Linked DNA regions of Homo sapiens. The protein of the gene in region 1 purifies or fractionates together with the protein of each later gene. This does not show direct contact. Each region holds a gene or a part of one and is shown on either strand. Other genes may lie near its edges. The genes, in order: SLCO2A1 and ACBD3.

Region 1 (3,826 bases):
GGACCGGCTTTCGGGTACCTGCTGGGCTCTGTCATGCTGCAGATCTTTGTGGACTATGGCAGGGTCAACACAGGTGAGTATGTGCAGAGGACACCCATTCCCATCCCCAGCTCAATAAAGCAGCCCCCAGCCCCCTCATCCAATCAGAACAGAGAATGAAGCTTCAGCTCCAGATGCGCTCTGCCACCTCCTCACTCGCTCACTCATCCCTGCAGTCCCTCGGAGAGCCAGGAGCAGACAGTGTGTGCCTCCTCTCTCAGGGCCCACGCTGGCCACTGTGAGGAACAAGCTGCTGAAGCAAACTCACTTTCTGCCCTTAAGAAGTTTGGAGACCCAGGGCAGGACCTCAGGTGTTGCCACCACAGCGCCCATCTTGGTGGCATTAAAAATATTTCTATGGGCTGGGTGCGGTGGCTCAAGCCTGTAATCCCAGCACTTTGGGAGGCTGAGGCGGGTGGATCACGAGGTCAGGAGATCAAGACCACCCTGGCTAACACGGTGAAACCCCGTCTCTACTAAAAATACAAAAAAATTAGCCGGGCGTGGTGGCAGATGCCTGTAGTCCCAGCTACTTAGGAGGCTGAGGCAGAAGAATGGCGTGAACCTGGGAGGCAGAGCTTGCAGTGAGCCGAGATCATGCCACTGCACTCCAGCCTGGGCGACAGAGTGAGACTCTGTCTGAAAGAAAAAAAAAAAATTCTATGGTTCTTTGATTCTAAGATGTTGCTGGTTCTTTAAGATTTAATAAGAGCTCTTTTGAGGAAAAAAAAGAAACATCATATAAAATATACACACGGATGATGACTCACATCCAGAGGGTATAACATGGTGTTTGACTGTGTGGGCGCTGGGACGGGACTGCCTGGGTCTCATCCTGGCTCCATCTCTTACTAGCCAAGTGATCTTAGGCAAGTAACTTTGTCTTTCTGTGCCTCAGCTTCCTCATCTGTAAAATGGAGCTAATGATAGTAAAATAAAGTTGTTTTAAAGATCAGAACAAGCCTAATGTATATTAAGAAGTCAACAGTATGAGTTCGTATTCTTCAACAAGTGGTATGGATGAGAATATATAGTCCCTAGACACCAGCATAAGTTCTGAGTTAACCATTCAGGGAGCCAGCCCCAGGATGAATGGAGCAAGGGCTTCCTGCCTTTGAGAGTGTGTCCCACACTACCCAGTCTCCCACAAGATGGGGAAGGTCAGCACCACAACAGAGGGACAGGCAAAGTGCTGTAGGGTGGAGAATGTGGGGAGTGTGTGGGTGGGATACGAAGTTCCAGCTCGGCTGAAGGGGTGGCTGAAAGGCAGGACTGAGCCAGACTCCAGGAAGAGCACTCCCACCACTGCCCTGCAAACAAGTCACGTCACAGATATCTGGCAGGTGCTAGTTGCAACCATGCTGCTAGAGCCTAGACTCCCGTCCCTAAGACTGTCAGACCACAGTGCCATCTGCATGGTGTCATTTGGCTGTACTTCCAATGAAAGTAGAAAGCCAGGGGGTGTCTTATGCCTCAGGATCAAGCCATCCCTGTCCTTTTGCTGGCACTCCCCGAATTGGTTCCTGGCTCTTGGTTGCCCAAAGAGACCAGCAACTGAGTGCCCAGTCCACTCAGGGCAGTGCCCAGGGAAGCTTGTCATGATTTGACTGAACCGTTCTGCCACCTTCTCCTTCCCTTTATGCCCGGATAGTTTCTTTACACAGAGAAACACAATGGCAGACTTTTACACGTGTGCAAGAGAATTGCCAAGAGAAAGCTGCTCCTTTGGAAGCCAGGCAGTTCACACAGTTGATGGTTGTTTCTTTAGGCTTCTAAGGATTATGGGGCCTCCTTTGTTAGGGATCCATAAAGTTGGGAGGCAGTAGTTTAATGGTTAAGAGGGCAGGTTTGCATACCAGGGAGACACAGGCTTGAAATTGACCAATGAAATGGCACTTACTAGCCTTTACCTGAGGCAAGGGACTTAACCCCTTCTATCCTCAGTTTCTTGACTGGTGAGAGGTGGGCAGACTTGCTAGAGAACCCAGTGGAAAACAGATGGAAAGCACGTGGTCTAGAGTCTGGCCCATGGTGTGCCCTTGTGAGTGAGAGTCAGCTCCCTTCTTCACTACTTCTGCCAAGGGCTGGGAGTTGAATAAGGAGGTGAAGGTACTGCTCCCTCCTGCCCGGGGATTTTCTGATGCTGTGCTTCATGTGCAGTGGCCTTGGTCCTCTGGGAAGACCAATAGCTGGGAGAGGGAATGTTGTTTTGACCAAGAATCTAGCTCATGGCTTGCCTCTTCTGCATCCTGGGAAGAAAATCAGTGAAACTCCCCCTGATCAGAGGTTCTGTTTCCAGTAAGGTGAGATCATGCATTCAACAAACATTTGCACTCTTCGTTTTCTCTTCAGCTGCAGTTAACTTGGTCCCGGGTGACCCCCGATGGATTGGAGCCTGGTGGCTAGGCCTGCTCATTTCTTCAGCTTTATTGGTTCTCACCTCTTTCCCCTTTTTTTTCTTCCCTCGAGCAATGCCCATAGGAGCAAAGGTAAGGTTCCAAGAGCCCATGACTCTACCTGATGGAGTTGAAGAAAGGGATGTGGGGGTAGAAAATAAATAGAGCTAAAAAGCTGCAGCATGTTAAGCAAATTCAGGGTGAAATCTAAACAAATTTCATGATGCAGGACTTCCCAGAGGCTTTAAGAGGTGAGGGTGTTGGTGAATTTCCAAAAGGTGGTATCTCCTATGTGTTCCCGTACCATGTTAGCATGTCAAGGATCAGGAGACCTCCAGGGAACAGTTTGGGAAACACTGAGCTTATCTAAATTGAGCTAAAGAATTAAGAGCCAATAAAGGCCAAGTCTGCGACCTGGTACAGTCAACTTTTACATTTAATAGGGCCTATCAGTGTTCAGTGTTTGAACCTGAAAAACTGAGTAGGAAGGGATTCCTAGCATTGAACAGTGTTGAGGGTGGCTGAAATTGGAGCATATTTTGAGCAGAGGACCTTCCAAGCATCTTCCAGTCACGCCTGCTGGGGAAAGGAATCAGGGAAGGATGAGAACGGAGAGCAAGGAAGAGAAGTCTGGGTAGGGGCTTGATGTTCAGCTGAAGGGTCTAAAGATTGTTCTAATTCCATGAAGTTCTAGAGCACTGCAGTGACTGGGTGGCCACTTGGGTGGCAATATGGCAGCTAGGTTGAGTTTAGGGGGTAGGGAAGGAATGGAGGCTGGAGATCTGAAGAGGCCAGTGCAGAGACCAGGTGAGAGATGGGGAATGCAGCAATGGTTGTCGGAGAGCTGGGACAGGGCAAAGATAAGGATAGACATTCCTAGGGTGGATGCCCAGAAGGACTCAGCAGTGAGCTGGCTTGGAGGAGAAGAAGGAGCTAAAGTTTATGCCTAGGCTTCAAGTCCCAAAATAGAGCTCAATGTTTGACAATGAGGTATATAAAATCTAGGCCCAGCCGGGGGGAGAGGGGCAGGGGTGGGAGGACCTCAGCTTGTCTTGGGGAAGAATTTCAGACGTTGGCTACACATCATGCAGGTGCTGGGGTCAGGCAGACCTGGGTTTGAATGAAGCTCTGCTACTTATAAACCAGCTGAGTTGGCCAGGTGTATAATCTCACACTTTAGGAGGCCAAGGCAGGAGGATTGCTTGAGCCCAGGTTGAGATTGGTGGGTAGGGAAGGAATGAAGTTCAAGACCACCCTGGGCAACATAGCGAGACCCCATCTCTAAAAAAAAAATTATTTTAAAAACTTAGCTCAGCATGGTGTTGAGTGCATGTAGTCCCACCTACTTGGGAGGCTGAGGTGGGAGAATCACTTGAGCCCAGGAGTTCGAG
Region 2 (2,608 bases), on another chromosome or scaffold:
ACTAGATAAAAATGTTGTTACAAAGTCTGGAGTCTAGGGTTGGGCAGAAGATGACATTTAATTTGGAAATTTCTTTTTACTTTTGTGGAGCATTAGAGTCACAGTTTACCTTATTGATATTGGTCTGATGGTTTGTGAACTCTTGCTGGGAATCAAAATTTCCTTGAGACTCTTTAGCATTCATACTTTGGGGTTAAAGGAGATTCCTCAGACTCATCCAGCCCTTGGGTGCTGACCAGCAGAGTCACTAGTGGATGCTGAAGTTACATGAGCTACATGTTAAATATTTAAAGTCTCCAAAATAAAACACCCCAACGTTGACCTTACCCGGCTGATGGTTAGCCCCTTGCTGCCTGCTCCATGTGTCTTATGAGAGCCCGTAGTTACAGTGTCCTCTAATTTGAAATCCATAAGTTAACAAGTCTATATCAGGTGCAGCTGGCTTTGATTAAAGGCCATTTTTAAAACTTAAAAACTCAACACCTCACAGATTATAATAGAAAAAGAAATGGCCTCAGTTTGATCTCGTTCAGAATGACCCAGATTGTTTCTGCTTTGGGTGCAGCTGTTTAGTTCAGAGTTATATTACAGAGAATTATTTTCTGAGATAATCTTAAACTAGAATGTTCAAAACTAATTGATAATTGAAGTATCAAGATACGTAGAACACCTCAGAGATTTTTCTTCAGGAACTTCCACAAACTTTGAATCCTTGTATCTTTATTTGGTATTCATACTACTAGTAGCAAAATACAGGTTTTTTGTTTTGTTTTGTTTTGTTTTGGCTTCATAGAGTATCTCAAATTGAAACTTTTCTGCACAAAGAATAAAATTAAGGATTTTATAAACTCAAATTGGCACCTACTGAATTAAAATACATAAAATCATTTAAATATAATTCAGCATATGGGAAGTAACATTGCACTAATATGGAAATCACTGCCAGAGACAGTCTATTTTCTTTTAATTTGTTACTACTTAGTCACAAACCCCACATTATTCCAGTTTGGAATTACTTATTAAGGAGAATTGGAAATACATATGCCCATGCTTAAATTTTATAGCTTTAATTTGTGTTATTTCTTTATTGACGGGAAGAGGTACATCTTTTTTTCCTTACTGAAAACAAATATGGATTAATTGCCTCAAATTTGTATAAGTGATTGGCTAGTGATTCTTGTTTTCAGAAGGGAGAGTGGTATAGATAGAAAATGACAAAGATGGCAATATACACTTAATGTTGTTATTGTATGTTGTTACTGAAGTACTTAGATTTTTAAAATTTCAAATCCTAAATCACTTCTTGTAGGAGGGTTTTCATTAACTGCAGTATATACAGTTCACTACATATGGGTTGTTTGAGTTTTTTGTGTGCTGTATTTCTTTCTGTTTTTTAATACCTGGTTTTGTACATATCTAACTCTGTTCTCTTTTGGTTGTTCAGAAACTGGATTTTTTTTTTCTTAAGCAGTGCTTAATTTGTGTTTTTTAATTTTGATTCAGAAGTAGTCCCAGCTCATAGGTGTTCATACTGTTACATCCAGAACATTTGTCAGGCTCTCTGTCAGCTTTCATGTACATATGGTATAGAAACCATGGAGTTAGGCACTTCCTGGATTTTTTTTTTATGAGAAAAATACTGTATTTAAAATGTAAAATAAACTTTTAAAAAGCAGGCACTAATATATATTTCTTCCAGCCTTTGATTACAAATTTGTCCTTGCACATGTTAAGATGAATTATCTCCTAAAAATATCATTGTTCTTGGGAGCAGTGTATGTTACTTTACATAGCAGCGGTTCCTGTCATGTGTTCATGTCAGAATATTTTTGGTTTTAAACTTTCTTATTGCCTTTGGCTGTTGATTAGTACAGTACAAGTGCGATTTCAAAAAGATCTTGAAAGTAATATATTTAATCAATTAAAATGTTTATCTGTAACTTGTTGATGTTTCATTAATATAGTTACTCTCTGAAGCATTAGTACAGTATTTCAACATTTGGGTAGGAGAAAAAGAAATGTTTCAAACATCTTTTTTGTTTTAAAAGGCTCTAGTTGAAAAACAACTCTTTCTGGCCAATTATTTAGTTTTACTATTAATTACCTTAGTGAGTTAAAATAGATTTAAATTTTTCCACACTTTTAAATGCAAAGGCTAGCACTGATTTTTCTTATTGAAAATGACTAGGTTATAAAGTTGTTTCTCTACACTACCATGTATGTAGTGTGTTCCATTAAATATGTGGACCCCACACACTTTAATGGATCTCCAGAGGCAGAGCCCTCGCTTGCTCAGGGTGGATGATTGCAGAGCACTTGTGGGGAAGTGCGCGATCAGTGTGATGTGGAGTCCCAGAATGAGGTTGCTACATCCAGATGACCCCACTGATAGGCAGGGTGACTGGCATAATTTTTTTCTTTTGAAATCTGGGGAGACAGATGAGGTGACCATCTTGGTTATTTTTGCTGTGTGGGATACCATAAAGCCAGACTGAAGACGCATTAAGGAGAGCAGTTGAGGTAAGCACATCTTGGAAAGTATGCTACCGAGTCTTGACCATCTATCTTTTGGAGCAGGAGAAGCAACCGGTTCAAAATAATAAATAAT

What was found.
Region 2: the proteins of SLCO2A1 (region 1) and ACBD3 purify together in Homo sapiens (affinity purification with mass spectrometry; one large-scale study listed by BioGRID and IntAct). This does not show direct contact.

Annotation. Positions count from the first base shown.
Region 1 is NC_000003.12:133,949,910-133,953,735, reverse strand, and holds part of SLCO2A1 (solute carrier organic anion transporter family member 2A1), read left to right. Parts: coding exon 1-73; intron 74-2,391; coding exon 2,392-2,528; intron 2,529-3,826.
Region 2 is NC_000001.11:226,144,011-226,146,618, reverse strand, and holds the end of ACBD3 (Golgi resident protein GCP60), read left to right. Parts: coding exon 1-9; 3' UTR 10-1,940; downstream 1,941-2,608. UniProt on the Homo sapiens protein: Involved in the maintenance of Golgi structure by interacting with giantin, affecting protein transport between the endoplasmic reticulum and Golgi. Involved in hormone-induced steroid biosynthesis in testicular Leydig cells.